3 separate regions of the Homo sapiens genome follow, and all the other regions are linked to region 1. Evidence: fine-mapped expression QTL. A gene starts in region 1. Each other region holds a variant in brackets. All regions are shown on one strand. Distances are between the middles of the regions.

What was found. PIP is the estimated chance that this variant, and not a neighbour inherited with it, causes the effect. A credible set is the group of variants that fine-mapping cannot tell apart.
Region 2: its variant is the best candidate, but not a certain one, in a credible set for the expression of SRI in pancreas (GTEx, PIP 0.79).
Region 3: its variant is the best candidate, but not a certain one, in a credible set for the expression of SRI in whole blood (INTERVAL, PIP 0.86).

What each region holds. Positions count from the first base shown.
Region 1 is chr7:88,218,071-88,222,318 of GRCh38, reverse strand. SRI (sorcin) reads left to right here and starts at 2,281. Exons shown (of 8, transcript NM_003130.4): 1 at 2,281-2,343; 2 at 3,377-3,460. The coding sequence starts at 2,293. It overlaps SRI-AS1 (SRI antisense RNA 1), which reads right to left. Exons shown (of 3, transcript NR_120517.1): 2 at 3,095-3,570. RefSeq lists silencers at 2,059-2,558, 3,206-3,295.
Region 2 is chr7:88,691,561-88,695,808 of GRCh38, reverse strand. All of the region lies in intron 1 of LOC107986816 (a long non-coding RNA gene), which reads right to left. Among named protein-coding and RNA genes, the nearest start is that of ZNF804B, 66 kb to the left of the region's middle. The variant T/C (reference allele first, on the strand shown) is at 2,543.
Region 3 is chr7:88,375,604-88,379,851 of GRCh38, reverse strand. No RefSeq gene overlaps it. Among named protein-coding and RNA genes, the nearest start is that of STEAP4, 71 kb to the right of the region's middle. The variant G/A (reference allele first, on the strand shown) is at 1,995.

The sequences.
Region 1 (4,248 bases):
ACACTTTTACACTGTTGGTGGGACTGTAAACTAGTTCAACCATTGTGGAAGTCAGTGTGGCGATTCCTCAGGGATCTAGAACTAGAATTACCATTTGACCCGCCATCCCATTACTGGGTATATACCCAAAGGACTATAAATCATGCTGCTATAAAGACACATGCACACGTATGTTTATTGCGGCATTATTCACAATAGCAAAGACTTGGAACCAACCCAAATGTCCAACAATGATAGACTGGATTAAGAAAATGTGGCACATATACACCATGGAATACTATGCAGCCATAAAAAATGATGAGTTCATGTCCTTTGTAGGGACATGGATGAAATTGGAAATCATCATTCTCAGTAAACTATCGCAAGACCAAAAAACCAAACACCGCATATTCTCACTCATAGGTGGGAACTGAACGATGAGATCACATGGACACAGGAAGGGGAATATCACACTCTAGGGACTGTGGTGGGGTGGGGGGAGGGGAGAGGGATAGCATTGGGAGATATACCTAATGCTAGATGACGAGTTAGTGGGTGCAGCGCACCAGCATGGCACATGTATACATATGTAACCAACCTGCACAATGTTCACATGTACCCTAAAACTTAAAGTGTAATTAAAAAAAAAATTCAATTCTTTAGCAGTAAAGCAGTGGGAAGATGTCTAAGGACAACTGATATGCCAATTCGTATAGCCGTTTATCCACGAAGCTAATTCTGCAGTACTTAAAAATATTTTATATGCTTTATACTTCTTTCAAACTTGAGTCTTGAGCTTGTACTCAACATCGAGTTCGGCCCTGACATCTACTCTTTATAGTCGGTTACCTCTTTCTGAAGAAACAGGCTTCCAAAGAGAGACCAGGGGACTCATTAGATGTCTCATCTACCTTGATGATTGCTACCTTGATGATTGAAAACAGTAACCTGCTTCCTGAATCAAACACAAAACAGGCAACATGCAGTGTCTTTGCTATGCCACAACAGGGACTATTAGAATTTTTCTCACAATTCGGACTTTGGTTTTCAAAAGGGCTTGCGAGGGAAGTTACACACAAGAGAAAAACAATGAACCGAATGAGGACAATAGCCCACGAATTTAGAATGGAGGAAGCCCGTCCACCACAGCGAAAAAGCACAGTACCACATTGGCGGGTGCTCCAATATTTGTGAAATGTTGATGACCCTTTAAATGTTTCTGTGCAACCTCCACAACAAATACTGTGAATCTTGCTTATTAATGCGTTTCTCAATACGTTAAAATTCAGGAAATCATTAAGTCTAGTCCTTAACAGTGAAGGGCAAGCAATTTTCTGTCATTGAAATTACACAAAACAAAACAAAAAGCTCACGCCTGAATTGCTTCGGACTATTCAACTGGAAGATAGAAAAATATATGAAGTAAAGAAGAATAACCTACATAGAAGTTCCTATCTCTTATCTTCCTGAATACTTACCAGTACACTATTAGTTTGTTCTAAACTTTTCTTATATAAAAAGTAGCTGAATACTTTTAGGGAAATGGATTGTTTTGTCTGAATCATCCAGATAATTCAAACAATTCATTTTCCTAAGAACGATATGTGTGAGTCTGTCCTGCCCGGAAAATGCCCTCTGTCCTACTCAGGACACAAGTCACGCTCAGCTTAAACAGGCAAGGAATTGTCCCCTAGGAAGGAAATACGCCGTTGTCGTTCAGTGAACTCTGCAACCAACAGCAAGCCAAACTCTCCCTTGCACACAGTTCGTCAAGTTAATTCTTATTTTCCAAGGGCGCTTTCGTATTTCCATCTTTCAAAGACTCCTTCACCCACTGGCACCTAAGGCTTGCCCTAACGCATCCAGCCCCTGCCTCGCGATGGTGCGCTCCGCTTATAATAGCTCCGTCCTGTCCAATAAAGTTGTTTAAAATAAGAAATGTGCCAGATAATAGCCAAGTCCGAAGGAAAAAAAAAAAAAAAGAATTCCTGGGGTGGTGTATTGGTGTTGGAATGTGCCATTAGTTTTGGAGGGAGGAAAGTCCCTGGTGTGAATTGCCTCGCAGGTCGTAGGCCGCCACTGGACCTTCAGTCGTGCACTGCATTAGCGCCGTAATGGCAAAGATACGAAGAAGCGCGCAGGCAGGGGAGCCACGGCCGCGCGCACAGGCAAGAGCTGGAGACGACTGCGGAGCGCGTCCCCCACGCCCGCGTGGTGCGCTCTGGGGCGGCCCCCTAGCGGCAGGGCGGGGCGGGGCAGGGGGCGGAGAGGCCTGGCGCACAGGGCGAGGGCGGCTGCGGCGCAGTCTGCAGCATGGCGTACCCGGGGCATCCTGGCGCCGGCGGCGGGTACTACCCAGGCGGGGTAAGTGCTGACTGCGCGGGATCGCGGCCCAGGCGGCTCCGGGGCGCTAAGAGGCCACCTTGGAGATGCTGCGGCCAGCGGGGTGAGGCGCTGCTGGGCGGCTACCCGGGCTCCTTCCGCCCTCGGCTTCTCCCTGCGCTCGCGGCCTCGCCCTAGGCCCCTGGGGTTCGGCCTCTCCCCACGTTTCCCCGTCCCTTCTCCTGGATGGCCCTGCGGGGCCAAGGTGAGGGTGGATTGGGACCCTAGAAGCCCACCCTGCGGCTTCTCGGATACGCGGCGTGAAATCGTGTTAATTGGGTGTTGGCTGACCCCCACCCCACCCCACCCCCGCCTTCTTGGTTGCCTCCCAGAGCAACAACAGTCATTTTATTCTAGAATGATATACCTTCCTCCCTTTAAAAAACAAACAAACAAACAAACAAACAAACAAACAAAAAACGAGTGAGAAGGGGGACGGAAAAAAAGGGAAAACCTGCTGAAGTAAAAGACCTGTAGGAAGGCAGCCTCGCCGGGCGTCTGGGATGCGCGTTGTCTTGGGAACTGTTTCCGAGACAGGCAATGTTCCCTCGCCACCCACGAGATACAGCCCGGCCGGACACCTTACTCTTCCCTAGGCTACACCCGTCTCAGAATGTTACCAACTCCAGCCTTCCATCGTTCATAAAACGCTCTTAAAATACCATAAATGCTGTAACAACAAAAGGAGAATTTGAAGCCCTGCCATTCGTTGGCTTACCTAGTTTGCACTCACCTCAGTAACCTTCAGGTTAATAGGGATTTTAAAAGTTGCTTTACATATGTAGACATCACTTTCACAGCAACTCTTTATGGTCTAAGTCGCCAGTTTTTAAATTACGGGGTGTGAATGGAAGAGAGGGGTGGAGTGTTGGCAGAGTGTGCCCGGTGGTGGGGAGGTGAGCCTTGTGAAGGGCGGGCAGGCGGGCAGTTGTCTGGCCTTGCACAAAAGCCCTCAGTGGTGAAAGAAGAAAACTTGATTCGGCAGAATGACGTGTATGTGTTTCCTGTTTCACAGTATGGAGGGGCTCCCGGAGGGCCTGCGTTTCCCGGACAAACTCAGGATCCGCTGTATGGTTACTTTGCTGCTGTAGCTGGACAGGTTAGCTTTTCCCTTTAATATTAAAGAGCCGTTATTGTCTGCATTTGTGGTAGCTTTTGATATAGTGACACAGAAAAGCGAACTTCCTGTGGTACTGAGTCCCTTTGCTTCTGCAAAAGAAAAAAAAAGTTGTTTCTTATTTTAGTTTTTTATTTCTGAATGTTCAGAATAAATGAGGACAAAGTGTTACTCGTATTTATGTGAGTTCAGTTCGAAAGCAAACTTGTGGTTGAATTAAAGGGTCCAGGATGGTTTCAAGCGAAAAAATTCAAGATCTGGTAAATATAAACGCTTGTTTGTACAACTTAAAGACATATATTAGTAATTACATAGCTCGATTCTAATGGGCACTTTCTTTGGGTTGAACTTGATTGCTAATCATTCACCCCCTTAGGAAATATGGTAAAAACCCACCAGCTTCTAAATAAGGAAGTTACTGTTCCCTTCTTAGTATCAGAAAGTTAATCTTGTGAACAGTGTAGTTTCTCTTTGATGCAGATGCTGTTACTAGGTCAGCCCCTCCATGTCCTTATTAGGTGTTCTGGCCTGTTGACCCAGAGAAGCAATTAAGGTCAGCTCCCCAAGACCTTTCACTTGTCTGCATTCTGAGTTGTATGACAGGTGCTATCTTACATTGACAGGTGCTATCTTACATTGAGAGAGGACACTTCCCTAGTTCATGAGGTCACTGTGTGCAGTAAATATACTGTTGGTATAACCCAGACACGTCCAGAGGAGATGTTTGTTCTTATGAATTCAACCTAGTTTTGTTTTGACCAAAAGCTAGA
Region 2 (4,248 bases), 470 kb before region 1:
ATTGCTGTTTCTGTTATCATCTCTCCTCTACCAGTGAAACTTAACCACTTGCCTGGAAAGTTTTCATTAGAACTCATCATGTTGCCTATAGGTCTAGGTGTGAGGGACCAATGCAACAATGTTACTGTTGATGTGGTTGTGAGCATCAATATAGAATGCTTTTCTCTACCCAAATGCCTTGTGTTTCTGCAGTATTCAGATAGACATATAAGTAGGTACAGACATACATGAATGAGATGGGTAACATCTCAGAAACCTCAAGCTTCATGATAAAACAGAGTCATATCATGAAGAATTTTAATTGTCAAGTGTCTAGTTTTCATTTTAAAATGTTTCCTTTTGAGCAGTGTCAATACCTTCCAAAAGCTTCTCTGGATTTCTCAGTGCTCCTCTAAAAAGGAAAGTGGTACATTATCCCCACAGACATTACAACTGCTTCCAGAGAAACAGCTCAGTAAAATAACAACTCTATAAAATGTTGCTGCAGCTCACAACAGAGAAAGTAGAAGGTTAGGAAAATCACAACAAGGGTTGAAACCTGGGACAGGTTGGTTCAACAAAACTCAATTCTATGAGATTAACCTCCATTTGGGAATTGGAGCATACTAAAGAAATATACAGTCATGTGTCACTTAACAACATGTATAGGTTCTGAGAAATGTATCCTTAGGCAATTTCATTATTACACAGGTTTCATAGAGTGTACTTCCCAAAACCTACATGGTATAGCCTACTACACGCCTTGGATATATGCTATAGCCTATTGCCCCTAGGCTACAAACCTGTACAGCATATTCTAGTGAATACTGTAGGCAATTAAAACACAATGGTAAGTATCTGTGTGTCTAAACATATCTAAACATGGAGAATGTATAGTAAAAATATAATATAATCTTATGGGACCACTGTCAGATACGCAGTTTGTCATTGATTAAAACGTTGCTATATGGTGCATGACTGTATATATCAAGACTGCTGCCTTCAAAGAACTTTTCTGGTAAAACAAGACAAATACATATTTTAACTAGATTAGTGCTGAGATTTTTAGTTCAGATAATAGTTTTTAGAGATGGTTAGGAAGGAAAAATTCAATGTGGTTAGGATACTATATTTCTGAAGGAAAGATGAATGTTCACAAAGACTCTTTTCCTTTCTCACTTCGTAATTAGTAATTTTGTTATTTTGCAATCTTCCAAATGGAACTGATAATTCTATACCTAGTTACCCACCACCCTCAACACTCTCTCAAAGTCTCTAATGTCAAAGATCACAAGAATAGGAAAGGCTGGGTTAACCAGATTTAAAAATCATTTAAAAGAGCATTCAGAATTTTCTTGCTTTTTCTCATATCATGTTCTTGTACTACTTGGCTTTGGATTAAGATAAGCTTGAATTTGTCTTGGAAAGCTTACCTAACCTCTTTGAGACACAATGTTCTCTTCCATGAAATAATAAGATGAAATTAGATGGCAGGTTTAAAATGTCCATCACAACATCTGACTCTTAGATACTCAATATTGTTCTCTGCCCTATTCAAGCCACTTGTCCCATATACTCTGGTTATAGAAGTGTCTTTGAAGTAAAACCAGAGATGTGGGACAATATAGATGTCATTGTATTGGGCAGAGGTGGATAGTTAGCAGTATGTAAGGACATAAAATTGCTTGGGATTTTCAACTTCAGACACAGACATAGGAAAAAAATATTGAGAGGATTCCCTAAGGTATGGCAAGCTACCAAGTCAGGGAACACATAAATTGTTCCTCCTCAATGAAGTAATACCAATGCTAAATATACAAGTGGTGATAGACAGGGATATAATTGAATTTTTAAAATATATAAACAAACAGAAATGTATTCAGTTATAGGAAAAGTATCACCACCTCATAGGCTAATCAAAAATGTTTCCAGGTTAAGGGACAAAAAAATTTATAATAATTCCAAGGTCTCTTAGATATATTTTTGAAAAATGCAATAACATAATTGGCTCTAATTTTCAATAAACTGCATTTTTTTTTCCAGGGGGAAAGAACAAAGATTAGAACTTGACCAGATACTAAAAAGTGAAAAATGCCCCTAGTTGAACACAGAATTGAACCTGAAAGCGCTCTGGAAACTCAGGGAAGTCTGATTCACAATCAAATGGTTTGCAGATTAATATCTGCAAATTAATAAAGATAATGCTCCTTGTGTCTTTGTATTTTCGGGGTGTGGGATTACTGCCATCATTTGATGGAGAAGAAGTTTTAACTACTAAGTCAGCATGTTTCCATGGTGCTACCTGGTTGCAAATCTGGGATGACATAAGGCACCAGCTTTCTTTACAAACCTTCAAGCTTGGAGGAGGTACAAATCAAATTTGGTCTGAATATTGTAGTTTTGTTTTTCAAGAAGTACTATTTCTGTTTAAGAGTTTTTGTTTGTTTTATAGAGATCTCCTTGGTTAATCCTTTAGCCACACTGATTTGATGCCAAGTTATTGTTTTCCAAATAGTAAATTTTTAAACTTCTTATCTGATTAGTTTTACCTGTTGAGGACAGG[T/C]GTTTTATGCCTCATAATTTTCCCCTCCATACTCATTTATACTTGAATAATTTTCAAGATTCTTGGTGAATTTCCCTTTGAAGGTTTCAAGTCCCTTTAATCCCCAGAATAAATTTATTAATTTATTAATGTTTCCCAAATAAAGAAAAAACCCTATTGGGAATATAGTGTTAATTATTTTTCTCAAGTACATCCACCAATATTGGTGCATACATTTCTCAGGAAATTAAATTTTCCATTAGTTCAATATGCTTGGAATGTTTGAATTAAAAAGAATTTTCCAAAAATGGTCCCAGGCTTCTTTTAAATGATGTTATTAAAAATATAAAGTTCATATTCTAATAGATTACCCAAGAAGGTTACTGCATACAAATTTACCTAAGTTCTTGCTTGTTATTATCTATTTTCCTGTAGTCTTGCTTGGTTCTGGAGGGACAGTTTGGCTGAATATCAAATACTTAATTTACACTAGTTTTTCTCATTAAGCATTTTTTTATACTACTGCTTTAAAATTGGGTTATCAAAAGACCAATGCCAGTCCAATATATCTGTCATTGCAAGTTACATGTTTGTTTATTTAGGCCATGAGGTCATGAGAATTTTTCTTTTAACTCTGAAACCTAATGGTTATTAGAATATGTCTTAAAGTTTATCAGTCTGGGTTAATGATAAACTAAATTTTCTCATAAACTGTATTTTCCCAAGTACCCAGTGGGGTCTTCCCATTTTTAGGTTCAAACTTTTTATTAAATGTCTGGGAAGTTTTCTGTGATTATAATTTCAAACATTATTTTCCAATGTTTTTGTTAATAGTTATTTTCTAATGTCTAATGTCCTAAAGTTTTGCTTTTCACTCTTTGTTTTGTTCAGGGATTGCAATAATACACATATTACTCCTTCTCTTTCTATCTTTGTATCATATTCACTTCTTCACTCATTTTTATTCTCTTAATTATTTTTCTGTTTTTCTTCAATGCTCCTTATTTAATTTTTTAAAATCAATTCTCTCATGGGCGTCTTAAAATCCATTCTTCATTTCTATGTTAATTTTGTCTTTTAATTCCATTTCTTTTTTGAATTCAATCAACTTTCTTTTAATTTTTACTGGTTTTTTCCATGTCTAGCCTCAGATTTTGAATTTCTGATTTAGATTATTTTTTCAAATCTTCATTTACTTGTGAGACTATCTCATTCCATTTATAGTTTTGACTTGGAGTTTTCTTCTGCTTCATGGTTATTAGTCTGAGGGAAAATTTCCTCAGTTAATATGTGTTGAATTTTGTTTTCAGATTTCTTTCAAAAGCTCATTTTGAATCTGTTAATCTTCTCTTGTCTATTTTTTTATGTGTGGTATTACAGTGTTTTACAAGATTTTTAATTTAATGATACTCCTGTCTCACAGTATTTCAAAACTCGAAAACTTCAATGGTTTTGTTTGTTTGCTTTTATGATAGGCAATGGGATTGTGAATTATCTAGTTTTGTGTTCCCCTTTTGTCTTGCGGGATTCAAAAATGTCCTCTTTCATTTAATTCACTATCCCATTGGCCAGAGGTGCCTTCTTTATGGTTTCTTTCTCCTCCAAAGAAGCTTTGTGTTTTAAATTCTGCTTCTTTAAGTTGTGAAACTCTTAAATATCTTTTCTGTGGCTCATGCTCTGTCTTACCTGGACATTATTTTAGTATTTTTAGAAAAGAGTGGACTTAG
Region 3 (4,248 bases), 160 kb before region 1:
ACCCAAAAGCAAATGCAACAAAAACAAAGATAAATAGATGGGACTTACTTAAACTAAAAAGTTTCTGCACAGCAAAAGAAATAAATCAGCAGAGCAAACAGACAATCCATAGATTGGGAGAAAACTGTCTCAAGCTATACTTCCAAGAATAGACTAATATCCAGAATCTACAAAGAACTCAAATCAGCAAGAAAAAAAAAAAATTTCATCAGAAAGTGGGCTAAGGACATGAATAGACAATTCTCAAAAGAAGATATACAAATGGCCAACAAACATGAAAAAATGCTCAACATCAGTAATTATCAGGGAAATGCAAAGCAAAACCACAGTGCAATAAATACCACTTTACTCCTGCAAGAATGGCCATAATCAAAAAATAATAGATGTTGGCATGGATGTGGTGAAATGGGAACACTTTCATACTGTTGGTGGGAACGTAAACTAGTACAACCACTATGGAAAACAGTGTGGATATTCCTTAAAGAACTAAAAGTAGATCTACCATTTGATCCAGCAATCCCACTACTGGGTATCCACCCAGAGGAAGAGAAGTCATTATAGGATAAAGATACTTACACACACGTTTATAGCAGCACAATTCACAATTGCAAGAATACAGAACCAGCCCAAATGCCCATCAATCATCAATGACTGGACAAAGAAAATGTGGTATATATATATATTATGTAATATTACTCAGCCATAAAAAGGAATGAAATAATAGCATTTGCAGCAACCAGGATGGAATTGGAGACCATTATTCTAAGTGAAGTAACTCAGGAGTGAAAAACCAAACATCGTTATGTTCTCACTCTTAAGCTGGAGCTAAGATATGAGGATGTAAAGGCATAAGAATGATACACTGGACTTTGGGGACTCGGGAGAAAGGGTATGAGGGGGTGAGGGATAAAAGACTACACATTAGGTACAGTGTGCACTGCTCAGGTGGTGGGTCCACCAAAATCTCAGAAATCACTACTAAGGAACTTATTCATGGGCCAGGCACAGTGATTCATGCCTGTAATCCCAGCACTTTGGGAGGCCAAGGCGGGTGGATCACTTGAGGTCAGGAGTTTGAGACCAGCCTGGCCACCATGGCAACACCCCATCTCTACTAAAAATACAAAACCTAGCTGGGTGTGGTGGTACAGGCCTGTAGTCCCAGCTATTCAGGAGTCTGAGGCACGAGAATTGCTTTACCTGGGAGGCAGATCACCAACATCGCTCCACTGCACTCCAGCAGGGGCTACAGAGTGAGACTCTGCTTAAAAAAAAAAAAAAAAAAAAGAACTTATTCATGTAACCAAACACCACCTGTCCCCCATAAACCTATTTAAATTTTTAAAAAGTTAAATATAGATTTACTGAGCATGACAACGCATAATTAACTTTTCCTCTACTCTCTTTTCACATGTAAAATGTAGATTTACTGAAGCTAATGAGAACCTCACTGCCTAAATTCCCTTCTTTTTTTCCCCTCCTGCTTGCTCCTTTCCCTTTACATATTGCAGTTCCCAAAATCCCCTTTGGAAAAAGCATAGGTCACAGGTGCTCCTGTGATTTGTGTTTTTTCCCAAGCACGTCCTCTCAACCTTGGCTAAAGAAACGTCTAATCAATTAAGACCTGCCTCAGTCACTTTCCGGTTTACAGAATTTATACATTTATGAAGTTTCCTATTGAAGGAAGATAGATTTTTGACTTTATCTTGGATTAACCAATGATCAAATAACAGTAATTTCATTAAGTTCTAGGAATTTATTTTTAAAGATTGTATCAGTTTCAGTACCATCACATCAACACATCAACTGTGGGGGTGTGTGTGTGTGTCTGTGTGTCTGTGTGTCTGTGTATGTGTTTGGGCCCTGGAGAGAGAGAGATTGGGTGAGGAAATCTACAAGTTAGCAGAAAAAGAAACTCTTGAGGGAGAAAAGAAATAACTCAAATGCCATTTTGCAGGTTTCCAAAATTAAAAAAAAAAAAGAACTTCTGTTAC[G/A]GGCCAAGTTTTGTGAGTTTTGTTGTTCCTTATTTTTGTGTGGTGTTTTGCACCCCCCACCCTCCAAAGAATTTCCATATTCAATCTTTTCCCTTAGAATACAAAACAAAACCTACCAGAGGAGAGTTCCTGAGAGAGGAAGCCAAAGGGCCCATGACTGATAGGAAAGACTCCTAGGAAAGCCTTTGAAGCTCTAGGAAGGAGAGGCGCTGACTCAATCAAAGCCAGCCAGGGTAGATCTGATTTACAAGCTGAGCTGTCTCAGCTGAACCAACAATCTAAAGTTGCTTGGTGGCTATGTTAGTGCTGCAGCTGTGACATTGTTGTTAATGAATCAGGATACCTGCTTAAGTTACTGTCAGACCAAGAGGTTTTTTAAATTCAAAATATCTCTGTAAGCTCCTGAAGAAGAAGTCTATTCAATGATGATTTGATAAAGATCACTTTTGCTTTGAGGTTTTTTCTTTTTTTTGTTGTTTTTTTTTCTTAAGTAAATAAAAATGTGTTTAATGTAGCTTTGTTTCCTAAAGGACTCATTAATTACCTTATTATGCTCTATTTCTTCTAGCTATGTTTGTTGAAAAATCAGTGTTATATATTCATGGATAAGCAAAAATGCTATCTGTGCTCATGGAGATTTTTAATCATTTAAGCCAACTTTATTATGATTGCTTTAACGTCTTTAAATTCATTCTATTTCCTATTCCAAGAAGGGTATTTATTAGAATTGTCAAACTTTATTCTTCTACTATGTCTGATTACTGTCTATTTAAAACTCAAAGTAGAATTCTAAGAAACTAGAGAAAAAAAGAGAAATTCCTATTTAATAAAAGGGAAAATAATTTACCAATTATCCTATTAAAACAAAAGAGAAAAGATGAATAAATTGATGATTTTTGAAGAAATGCACACTTTACTTGCAACTAAACAATTGCTAATCAAAATAATTTTCAGGTGCCATGACATAGTTATTAAACTAGAAAAAAGGAAATAAAATTTTATAACCAATGCTGGTAAAGTTGGAGGGAATGAGAATAGTTGAGTGTTTTGTAAATTGTTCACTCTCTGGAGAGCAACCTGGCATGTGTGACCAGACCTACAAAATTAAGGGCAAAAACCTTTTTTTTATTTTTCAGTAATCACCACCATATGCCCAGCAGTGAACACGATTTCTGACATAAATTAAGAAATAAATAATAATTGATAAAAGAATAATGAATAAAATGGTTCATGCCCACTGACTTGTTAATTTCACTTTGAGGAAAATTAACAAAAATTAACCCCAAAATTAAGACTTTTCACCACTATTCATAGCAGGAAAAAAATTGGACCCATTCACATATTTGATAATAGAGGAATACTTGAGCTTGATTAAATGTTTCATGTAGCATAGCATATAAGCCATGTTTAAACAACATAATGTGTGTGAGTTAATATTAAGTATCTTGCAGGGCACAGTGGCCCATGCCTGTAATCTCAGCACCTTGGAAGCCTGAGACAGGAGGATCACTTGAGGCCAGGAGTTCTACACTAACCTGGACAACATAGCAAGACCTCATTCCTGCAAAAAATAAAACAAACAAAGTTTAACCGGGCGTGTTAGCATACACCTCTCATCCCAGCTACTCAGGATGCTGAGATGCTGAGGCGGGAGGATCACTTCAGCCCAAGAGTACAGCATAGAAACATTCATAGAAACATTCATATACAAAATAGAAAACTCCTGATCATCGAGGACAACACAGAAGGAAGAAGTGAGGCATCTGCATGACTCACATTACCCTGCAGGTTATAAAGATTTCTTACCTTTGATTACCTACCTCTGTATATAAAGCAATCTTAGAGATTTGAAAAGAAAATTTACAACTGAAAAACTAAAATTGAACTGCTTATAAGCTGTCATCCATAATCAGCTCATTATTTAATATATCTTTTAAGACAACTCAGTTTTTAGTCTGTATAAAGCAATGTCTTAGGTGCTGCAAGGAAAGCACTTATGGGGAAGTCACAATAAGCCTGCAAATACTTATTCCTTAAAGTAAACAGTGCCATATTTAAAGGGAATGCTAATGTTTTTTAAACAATCTGTATTGAATTGTAATAATGGAGCTGGAGGCCAATTTTCAATTGATTTGATGTTAAAATCCTTAATATTTAGATAGAATTTTTTATTTTTGGCTTTAAGAAAATAAAAATGTCTGAGTCTAACAATAATGCAATACTAAATGTCATCATAATAGTTAGGTCTCTCATG